Regions from separate parts of the Homo sapiens genome. Here region 2 is linked to region 1. The links come from fine-mapping of genetic effects on gene expression. A gene starts in region 1. The other region holds a variant in brackets. All regions are shown on one strand. Distances are from middle to middle. Region 1 holds the start of HTR6 (5-hydroxytryptamine receptor 6). Region 2 overlaps TMCO4 (transmembrane and coiled-coil domains 4).

Region 1 (5,367 bases):
GCTATTCACACGTGTGATCATAGCTCACTGCAGCCTTGAACACTTGGCCTCAAGCAATCCTCTCACCTCAGTCTCACAAGTAGCTGAAACTAGAGTCGTGCACCACCACGCTCAGCTAATCTTTAGGTCTTTTTTTTAAAATAAAAGATATCAAGTATTGTGGGAAAAGTGAAAGCAGAAAGACTAATATTCTATGCACTACCTACAGATTTTTACAAAGCAACATTTATCAGGCAAAATTTTTTACTCATCTCATTCACAGCTCCACTGCCTTGGTTTCATAGCAGCAGAGAATTTAAGAGGCTTTGCACAACTTCACAGAGCAAGTGGCAGACTCTGGATGATGAACCCAGGATGCTGGGCTCCAAAATCCTTCCACACAGCACCTCTCAGGGTTGCAGCTGTTCACGTCAGAAATCCCTGGGCTCAAGGAGTTAGCACAGAGCTGAATGCATTACGATTGTGCTGATGGGAACACTAAAGCCAAGAGCTAGGTTTTTTTTTTGTTTTTTTGTTTTTTTGTTTTTTTTTTTTTTAGATGGAGTTTCGCTGTTTTTGCCCAGGCTAGAGTGCAGTGGTGTGATCTCAGCTCACTGCAACCTCTGCCTTGTGGGTTCAAGTGATTCTCCTGCCTCAGCCTCCTGAGTAGCTGGGATTATGGGCGTGCATCACTACACCTGGCTAATTTTGTATTTTTAGTAGAGACGGGGTTTCATCATATTGACCAGGCTGGTCTCGAACTCCTGACCTCAGGTGATCTGCCCGCCTTGGCCTCCCAAAGTGTTGGGATTACAGGCGTGAGCCACTGTGCCCGGCCAGCTAGTGTTAACATAGTATCAAAGACACAGATTACATCAGTGTCATTTAATCCCCTCAGCTACTCTGTGAGGTGGGTGCCATATTGTTCTGCTAACTATTACAGAAGAGAAAGCTGTGACCCAAGGAGATGGAGCCACTGGCCCTGTAATCCCAGAGCTGGGATGGAGCGGGGATCCCAAGCCATGTGTTTCTGACTCTCTGCCCAGGCTTGCTGTACTACGTTCTGTTCCTTGGGGGCATGGCAGAAATCGTCACAGTGGTGCAGTGTGGTGGCAAGGAGGAAGGACAGGCCTCCTCTATCTGCTTAAAAGATGCTTCTGTGGGCAAGGCTGGGGCTCTGAGCACCAAATAGCAGCTTAGAGTTGGCGGGTGGGTGCTGCAGGCTCTGAGGTGCCTGAGGGGAGGTTTTTGACCATCTGTAATGGGCTCTCTTTGCCATGGGCATCGAGCAGATCTGGGTTTCAGGTCCACTTCACCACTTGCTGCTGGTGATCTGGGGCAAGGCCCTTGGCCTCTCTGAACCCCAGTTTAACGTCTACCTCTCAGCATTATTGTAGGGGTCGGAATAAATAACTGGAGGAGTAGGAACCGTACAACAAAGCCCCTGGGGACAGCGCAGGAGCCTTCGATTTGGAAAGTATTATTTTTCTGTTTCTGTGGAGAAAAAATGATCCCACCCCGTTCTCTTTATACTACATTTTCTTTTTCTCTTTCTCTTCTTTCTTTCTCTTTCTTTCCTTTCTCTCTTTCTTTCTTTCCTTTTTTTTTTTTTTTTTTTTTTTTTTTTTGACAGAGTCTTGCTCTGTCACCCAGGCTGGAGTGTGCAGTGGCACAATCTTGGCTCACTGGAACCTCTGCCTCCCAGGTTCAAGCAATTCTCCTGCCTCAGCCTCCCGAATAGCTGGGATTACAGGCTCCCGCCACCACGCCCAGCTAATTTTTGTATTTTTGATAGAGACGGGGTTTTACCATGTTGGTCAGGCTGGTCTCGAACTCCTGACCTCAGGTGATCTGCCCACCTCCGCCTCCCAAAGTGCTGGGATTACAGGCGTGAGCCACCTCGCTGGGCCCACTTTCTCTGTTGATTATGCTTATTGTTTATTGTCTGTTTCTTCCACTAGAATGTAAGCTCCATGGAGGTGCGGATCTTTGTTTTGGCCACTGTAGTGTCCTGATGGGTCAGAACAGTGCCTGACATCTAGTGGATGCGCCTTAAAAGATGCATTGAAGTATCTGTTCAATGAATGAATGAATAACAGTATTAACCTGCACAGCAGTGTTAGGCAGAGACTCTTCTCAGCCAGAGGGGAGACGTACAGAGGGAGGTCACACCCAGGGGAAACCACACCCCACGCCTCTGCCTGCAGCGACTCTTAACACACCTGGCCTGGGGATTCTCAAATCTGTTCACGCTCTGTTAGACTAGGAGCGCCAACAGCTCAGGGACTTCATCCTTAGTACCTGGCCCCTTTGGGGATCGGGATGGTTTCTGCGGGAAAGGCCCTGGGGAAGGTTAGCTTCTTGCTCAAACTAACGGTGAAGAATGCCCAGAATTACTAACCCATTTTACAGATATGGCAACTGAGGCCCAGAGGGGTGTCAGGCGATTTGTCCAATATTTCCCAACTCCTGGCTCCCCTGAAAGCCCGGTGACCCCGTTGTGAGTGGGCAGGCACCCATTAGAGAGCAGCCCCTGGATAAGGGCAGGTCACAGCCCCCTGCTCCCAGTTCCGCCTGCGCCGCCGCCACGTGTGGGTTGGGAGGGGCATCTGAGGGTGTGGGGGCTGCCACAGCCCGGGAGGTGACCCCTCGCAGCTGGGGCGCTCTGATCTTCGGCCCACAGGCCCGGGGTGCCGGGACCCCGCCCTCCTGCAGGGCCAGGGCTCGGCTCTCCCCGCCCACCGCGAGGCGGGGCGCACGCTCCGCGGCGCGGGGACCGCGCGCTCCAGGCTGCACCCGGCCTCTCCTCCGCGCGTGCGGGCCCCTCGCGGCGCCTCCCGGGCTCGGGAGACCCGGTCCCGCCGCCCGCCCGGCCCGCGGCCGCCTCTTCCTCTCGCAGCCCCGCGGCGCTTGCCGCAGTCGCAGGCGGCGGAGCAGCCAGAGCGCCCCAGGTACCAGTGCGGGCGGGAGACGGAGGCGACCCTGCTGCCGGGTGGGGAGGGGGCGCCGCGCGGCCGCTGCCCTCCTCTTCCCGCGGGGCCTGGCGGCCCCGGCGAACCCCCGCGCCGCACAGGCCGTGTGCGCCGGATCCCGGTGCCTCCGCGCCAGCTGAGACCTGCCTTTCCCAGGGGCGGCTTTGCTCCGGCCCCTAGGCCCCCGCCCTGGTACCCCACACGCCCACCGGCCGCGGGGAGCCTGCTCCGGCCCGAGAGCGCCCATTCACCCCCCTCACCCACCTCCCCGCGTTCCCACTTCCCCGCACTCTGACCCGGCCGGACGCCCCTCCCCTATCTTGCCGCCCGCCCCCTCCAGGGGGCTCTGCTCCCACCCCAGGGAGCCCATCCGACCTCTGCTTGACTTCCCGCCGCTTCCTTCAGGGGCCTCGGCTCATCGGGTGCCCCTCCCCAAACTTCCAACCCGTTTGCTCCAGGAGTTCCTGCCCCATCCCCGAGGGCGCCCAAATAGCCACACTGTGTCCTCCTGTAGTCGCTGCCCCCTGACCTAGCGCGACCCAGCGCCCCCGCCCATGTCCCCCCACTCACCTCCCCCGGGGGGCGTGGTGAGTCGCGGTCTGTTCTCACGGACGGTCCCCGTCCAGCCTGCGCTTCGCCGGGGCCCTCATCTGCTTTCCCGCCACCCTATCACTCCCTTGCCGTCCACCCTCGGTCCTCATGGTCCCAGAGCCGGGCCCAACCGCCAATAGCACCCCGGCCTGGGGGGCAGGGCCGCCGTCGGCCCCGGGGGGCAGCGGCTGGGTGGCGGCCGCGCTGTGCGTGGTCATCGCGCTGACGGCGGCGGCCAACTCGCTGCTGATCGCGCTCATCTGCACTCAGCCCGCGCTGCGCAACACGTCCAACTTCTTCCTGGTGTCGCTCTTCACGTCTGACCTGATGGTGGGGCTGGTGGTGATGCCGCCGGCCATGCTGAACGCGCTGTACGGGCGCTGGGTGCTGGCGCGCGGCCTCTGCCTGCTCTGGACCGCCTTCGACGTGATGTGCTGCAGCGCCTCCATCCTCAACCTCTGCCTCATCAGCCTGGACCGCTACCTGCTCATCCTCTCGCCGCTGCGCTACAAGCTGCGCATGACGCCCCTGCGTGCCCTGGCCCTAGTCCTGGGCGCCTGGAGCCTCGCCGCTCTCGCCTCCTTCCTGCCCCTGCTGCTGGGCTGGCACGAGCTGGGCCACGCACGGCCACCCGTCCCTGGCCAGTGCCGCCTGCTGGCCAGCCTGCCTTTTGTCCTTGTGGCGTCGGGCCTCACCTTCTTCCTGCCCTCGGGTGCCATATGCTTCACCTACTGCAGGATCCTGCTAGCTGCCCGCAAGCAGGCCGTGCAGGTGGCCTCCCTCACCACCGGCATGGCCAGTCAGGCCTCGGAGACGCTGCAGGTACCTGGGGTGCGCAGGGAGACCCGGGCTGTGGGATAGAGAGGAATGAGCAGCCCCTGGGGACCCCCTGGGCATCCCCACTTAGCACACATTTGCTCATGGCCCTGCGTGGCTGTTGTGAGCGCCCACCTTTCTTCTGAACTCCAGAGCCAATGCCTGACCCACCCACCACAGGATAGCTCCGTCAGGATTTGGGGGCAGGCTTCTCCCAGGTACCATGTACAACAGGGAATTTATGGTGGCCCAACTCTCCCCATCTTTGCCTCCCTGGTCTTCCCCATCATGGCAAATGGCACCATTGCGGCATCACATGCCAGGAACTTAGGAATACTTTTCTCCCTCACCCTCATGCCATTCATTAGCGAGACCTGTTGGCGCTGCTCTAAACAGGTGCCATCTCCCCTGCCACTTCCTACCGGGGAGGCTGTGTAGACTTCTCCTGGCTCCCCTGCTTCTGCCGCAGACCCAGTACTCTCCATCTTCTGCATAGAAGCTGGAGCACTTAAAAAAGAAGTGATCATGTCACTCCCCTGCTTCAGACTCTTCAGGCTTCCCACCGTGCTCCAGATAAAGAAAACCTGTCTCAGGATCTGGCCTCAGGATCCCACACTGCCATCCTCTCCAGTGTCACCTCCCCTCTCCCTCTCTCTTACTCTGCAACAGCCTTGTGGCCTTTCTCACGGTTCTAGAAGGCACTGGGCTTACTTCTGTGCCCAGGTCTTTGCACTTGCTGTTCCCTGTGCCTGGAATGTTCTTCCCCCGGCTGCCTTCTTCCCAGGGGCCATCTTTGACCACCCTATCTGCAGGCCCATCTGCACTCTCCATCCCTGTTATTCTCCATAAGAACAAGTCATAAAAATGACTTGTTCATTTTGCCTCCCTGACTTGAATATAAGCTCCAGGAGGGTCACACATATTGAGATCAGTTTTTTTGCTTTTTTTTTTGTTTTTGTTTTTGTTTTTTTTGAGACGGAGTCTCGCTCTGTTGCCCAGGCTGGAGGGC
Region 2 (5,367 bases), 26 kb after region 1:
CCCCTGACCATCTCCCAGGCTGTCTTGATTGAATCTGCCAGCTGCCTGGATACACGCCGGATGTGACTGGCGTGCAGAAGCCTTCCGTGGCTTCCCGTGTTGGCAGGGGCCTCTGTGGACACCCTGTGATGGCACTCATAACCTGTCATCGTCACATGCTCATGAGGTTGCGTTCCCTGATAAACTGAGCGCAGGGGAGCAGAGACCACTTCTCACTCACCTCTGTGCCCCACAGCCAGCCCCGCACATCGTGGGGTTTCCGTGGGAACCAGATCCCTGCAGGTACAAATGGGGCCCAGCCCTTCCTGTTTCCTGCCTCAAAAGACACCCCAACTTACCCAAACAGAGGCTGCCATCACCCACCTCCATCTGCCCCAGTGACTCCTTCCAAGCCCATCAGGCCCCTTTGGGTTCTTTCACTTCTTGGACCTCAATTTCCTCATGTATAAAATGAGGCTAATAAAGAGACCTATACCACGTGGGCTGGCTGTGTGGCTTTGATAATACATGTAACAGGCTTATTGGCACAGGGTTAGAGGCCACTACCAGAAGCTACAGAGATGTGTGAATGCAGGCAGTACTGAAGCAGTGGTTAACAGCCCAGGTTCATCCGGCTCTACCACTCACATGCCGTGGCACCGCCTGCAGCCTCAGTTTTCACACCTGTACAACGGGTTACTACCACTATGCAGGACCTCTATGAGGATCAAATGACTTACCCCGTAAAACATGTGAGTTGTTGGCTACTGCGGTTATTATCAAGTATCTACTTTGTGCCAAGCCTTTTGCTAAGTTCTAGGCCACCTGGCATTTCTGCTGGGACATGGAGAATCTTGCCGTGGGTTGGATCTCTGTGCCCCAGAAGCCTCATGAGTTGGTCCCTGGGGTGGCAAATCCCCCACCCACTGTAACCTTGTCCCTGTGAGGAGAGACTGAGGGGCAGGAGGGCAGCTTCATTCACCCCAGAGATGCGCCCTGCCTGCAACAGGGCCAGCCCAGTGGGATGATCACAAAGGGCCCTGCTGCGTGGTTGGCCCAGCAGGGAGAAGACAGGTCCTGTGGGTCTCTGTTGGGAGCAGAGGGTGGCCAGCATTTCCCCAACAGCAGTAATGAAACCTCCCTTGCCAGCAACTTCTCCAGCAAAGCATTTTCAAGGAAAACAGGAGGCCAGCACAAAGGCAGTGCTAATTACCTCTAATTACCCAGAAGAGGAAAGCACTGTTTTTTGTGATGTACTCCTAATGTGATAAAGAGCTATTATTAGGCAGGAGCTGGGAAGCTGCCACGAAGACAGCCTGAGGAGGGAGCGGAGTCTCCAAAACTGCTGGTCCCAGAGGCAAACAAACTGGGGGTGGTGGCAGGGGCAGGCCGGGAGGGACTAGGATTAAAGGAGGGCCTACTATGCACCAAGCATCTTACATGCGCTGCCCTGGAAGTTAGGCGTTTCCACCATTTCCTAGATGAGGACACTGAGACACAGAGAGGTTAAGTAACTGGCCCAAGGTCACACAGCCAGTAAACCAGTGGCAGAGCCAGGATTCTAAGCCATGCCTCTCTGGTGCCAAAGGCTGTGCTCTTCCTACCATATCCCATTCCCAGTAGAAATCAGATCTTGTGAGGGCTTTGCAGCATTAAAAGCTACTTTCTTCAGCAGATGCTTTTTATCTCTGATTCTTCTGGCAAAGGGAGACTCCTGGGGTGCTGAGGCACAAAGTCCCTGCTCCCTTTCACCCCATTCAGGGTGCAGGCACCTTGAATAGGACAGAGAGCCCTGGACATGGGTCAGGAGGCATCAGCTCTGAGCCCTGTTGATGGTGACAGGAGGCAGCCAAATGCCTAGGCAGACGGGGTGGGTCCCTGGTGAAACCCCACCTTCAAGCCAAAAAAACAGCCTGAAGGCTGAAAGACTGGACTGCTGGTCCCACATGAAACCTGTGACCCAGAGTGAGAACTTCTGTTCCTGTTTGCCCACACTTCCCCTATTCTGAGCCCATAAAAGCCCCAGACTCAGCCACATTGTGGGGACTTTCCTGCCTTTGGGTAGGGGAACCATCCACTCATCCCCTCTCTGCAAAAAGCTGTTTCATCACTCAATAAAACTCCTCGCCTTGCTCACTCTTCAATTATCAGCGTGTCCTCATTCTTCTTGGATGCTGGACAAGAGCTTGGGACCCACTGAGTGTGGGTACCCAGAAAGGCTGTCATACTGGCCTTTTGCCCTCATCAGTGGAGGGCAGCTGCCCCACGTGATGGGGTCAGGGGCCGACTGAGCTGTTAATACACCACCGTCTATTGGGCCGTCAATGGTGGAACTAAAACAGCTAATTAGCACACTAACGCCCCCTCTGGGGCTTCAGGGTTGTGGGTACCCCTGCCCAGGTGCTGCCACTTTCCCCTCGAGGCAACACGCCTGGTCTGGCCACAGGCCCAGCATGGAGCTTGCTCTTGTGTCGGTGTTTGGAGTGGTCAGCCAGAGCCCACACTTGCTCATTCATGTGCTTCCTCCTGCAAGGGGCTGAGTGTGGTGGACCGAGTAGATGGGGTGCCCCTGCTGCAAGTGTGGCCAAGGGGCTGAGAGAAAATTCCTGTCACTGTGGTTTGCTGGTCTTGTGACTCAGCTTACCTCATTCCCACAGAGAAGTGGGCAGCACAGCTTCCAAGCTGGGCTCAGAGTCCAGACCTACAACTCTGGCTATGACTCCATGCTCCCAAGTCTCAGTTTCCCAATCTATGATCTGGGGATGCTTAATACCTCCTCTAGGGAGTTGCGAGGTTTACAGCATGTGAGCCAAGTCTATCTGTGAAGACTCTTTTTTTTTTTTTTTTTTTTGAAACAGAGTCTTGCTCTGTCACCTAGGCTGGAGTGCAGTGGTACCCTCTCGGCTCACTGCAAGCTCCACCTCCTGGGGTCATGCCATTCTCCTGCCTCAGCCTCCCGAGTAGCTGGGACTACAGGTGCCCACCGCCACACCTGGCTAATTTTTTGTATTTTTAGTAGAGACGGAGTTTCACTGTGTTAGCCAGGATGGTCTCGATCTCCTGACCTCGTGATCTGCC[C/T]GCCTTGGCCTCCCAAAGTGCTGGGATTACAGGCGTGAGTCACTGCACCCGGCCCCTGTGAAGACTCTTTAACCAGGAGCAACCAGTTTCATAAATGGATGAGCCTAGAAATGACTCTTATTCTACCCCAGTCCCCAAAGCTCCCAGTTAGGAAGGCACAGGGTGGCTTCATTTGTGATCCTCTGGTGGGTTAGGAATTTTGTCTTAAGGCCCTGGAAGTTTAGGGGTGAAGATACAAGTGAACTGGCCCCAGCGACCTGGTGTCAGGCCAGGTGAGAGGCCCAGGTGACCTCTGGGCAGGGACATGGCTGACAGACTTTATGGACAGCAGCACCTGGTGAAGTTTTGATTTTGTTTTTTTGTGCAATAATTCCCCCATGTTATCAAATGCTCAGTCAAGTCTCAAAACACATGCAGCCCAGTGTGAGCCACACTGTGGTGGCACGGGTGGGTCTGAGGCCTAGCTTCATTGGCCATTGAGATGCAGTGGTGGAGTGATCAGAACAGGCAGCTGCTGATCCTGAATGGGGAAGCCAGAATGCCCCTCAAACCAGGGGATTTTTAGATGCCCAGAAAGGAGTCTAGTCTGTCTGCAGGAAGCAGCTGCTCAAACAACCATGAGTGGAAACTGGGTGATATGGTTTAACTGTGTCCCCACCCAAATCTCATCTTGAATTGTACTCTCATAAATCCTATGTGTTGTGGGAGGGACCCAGTGGGAGATAATTGAATCATAGGGGTGGTTTCCCCCAACCTGTTCTCATGGTAGTGAATACGTCTCCTGAGATCCAATGGTTTTATAAGGAGAAACCCCTTTCACTTGGTTCTCTTCTCTGTCTTGCCTGCTGCCATGTAAGACGTGCCTTTCACCTTCCGCCATGATTGTGAGGCCTCCCCAGCCACGTGAAATTGAGTCCATTAAACCTCTTTTTCTTTATAAATTACCCAGTCTTGGTATGTCTTTATCAGCAGCGTGAAAATGGACTAATACACTGGGTTACATGTGGGAAGCACTTGGCACTTGATAAATGGCAGCCAGCAACATAATAACTAGAAACCAAAGATTTTGTTCTCAGGGTCCCCTGATTGCTGAAGTCGGCTTGTGCTTGTAGTTACAGCTTATTCCTTATTCCTCCCCTCCCCGCCTCCCCCTATGGAGCACCTCTCCCACTGGTTCTCATATCTACCTGGGCTGGGGCTACATCTATTGGCTTCAGACCTGGGTTTGAGTCCTGCTTTGCCATGTTTCAGCGGTGTGACCCTGGAATGTCTCTAAGCCTCAGTGACCTTGTCTGTACAATGGGGACAGTAATGTCTGTAAAAGGCTTAGGGCAGGCCGGGTGTGGTGGCTCATGCCTATAATCCCAGCACTTTGGGAGGCCAAGGCAGGTGGATCACCTGAGGTCAGGAGTTTGAGAACAGCCTGACCAATATGGCGAAACCATATCTCTATTAAAAATACAAAAAAAAAAAAAAAAAAAGAATTAGATGGGCGTGGTGGCAGGCGCCTATAATCCCAGCTATTTGGGAGGCTGAGGCAGGAGAATCGCTTGAACCTGGGAGGCGGAGGTTGCAGTGAGCCGAGATCGCGCCATTGCACTCCAGACTGGGCAACAGGAGTGAAACTCCACCTCAAAAATATAAATAAACAAATAAATAAATAGGCTTAGGGCAGAGCGGGACATAGAGTGAGTGTCCACATGGGAAGCTATTAATTCCCTAGGATAGCATGTGGCAGGTGAACGAGGTTCTTTCAAGTCTAAAAAAACTGAAGTTGGTCAGGCACGGTGGCTCACGCCTGTAATCCCAGCACTCTGGGAGGCCAAGGTGGGTGGATTGCTTGAGCTCAGGGGTTCAAAACCAGCCTGGGCAACATGGTGAAATCTTGTTTCTACCAAAACTACAAAAAATTAGCTAGATGTGGTGGTGCACACCTGTGGTCCCAGCTACTCAGGAGGCTGGGGCAGGAAGATCACTAGAGCCTGGGAGGCAGAGGTTGCAGTGAGCCGAGACTGTGCCACTGCACTCCAGCCTGAGCGAGACCCCATCTCAAAAAAAAAAAAAAAAAAAAAAAAAAAAAAAAAAAAGGCCAGGCACGGTGGCTCATGCCTATAATCCCAGCACTTTGGGAGGCTGAGGCAGGCAGATCACCTGAGGTCAGGAGTTCAAGACCAGCCTGAGTAATATGGTGAAACCCCATCTCTACTAAAAATACAAAAATTAGCCGGGCATAGTGGCAGGCTCCTGTAATCCCCGCTACTCGGGACACTGAGGCAGGAGAATGGCTTGAACTGGGGAGGTGGAGGTTGC

What was found. PIP is the estimated chance that this variant, and not a neighbour inherited with it, causes the effect. A credible set is the group of variants that fine-mapping cannot tell apart.
Region 2: its variant is the best candidate, but not a certain one, in a credible set for the expression of HTR6 in lymphoblastoid cells (GEUVADIS, PIP 0.52).

What each region holds. Positions count from the first base shown.
Region 1 is chr1:19,662,104-19,667,470 of GRCh38, forward strand. HTR6 (5-hydroxytryptamine receptor 6) reads left to right here and starts at 2,772. Exons shown (of 3, transcript NM_000871.3): 1 at 2,772-4,364. The coding sequence starts at 3,651. RefSeq lists a silencer at 2,586-2,815 and enhancers at 2,594-3,566, 3,567-4,537.
Region 2 is chr1:19,688,057-19,693,423 of GRCh38, forward strand. All of the region lies in intron 15 of TMCO4 (transmembrane and coiled-coil domains 4), which reads right to left. Among named protein-coding and RNA genes, the nearest start is that of HTR6, 26 kb to the left of the region's middle. RefSeq lists an enhancer at 992-1,506. The variant C/T (reference allele first, on the strand shown) is at 3,058.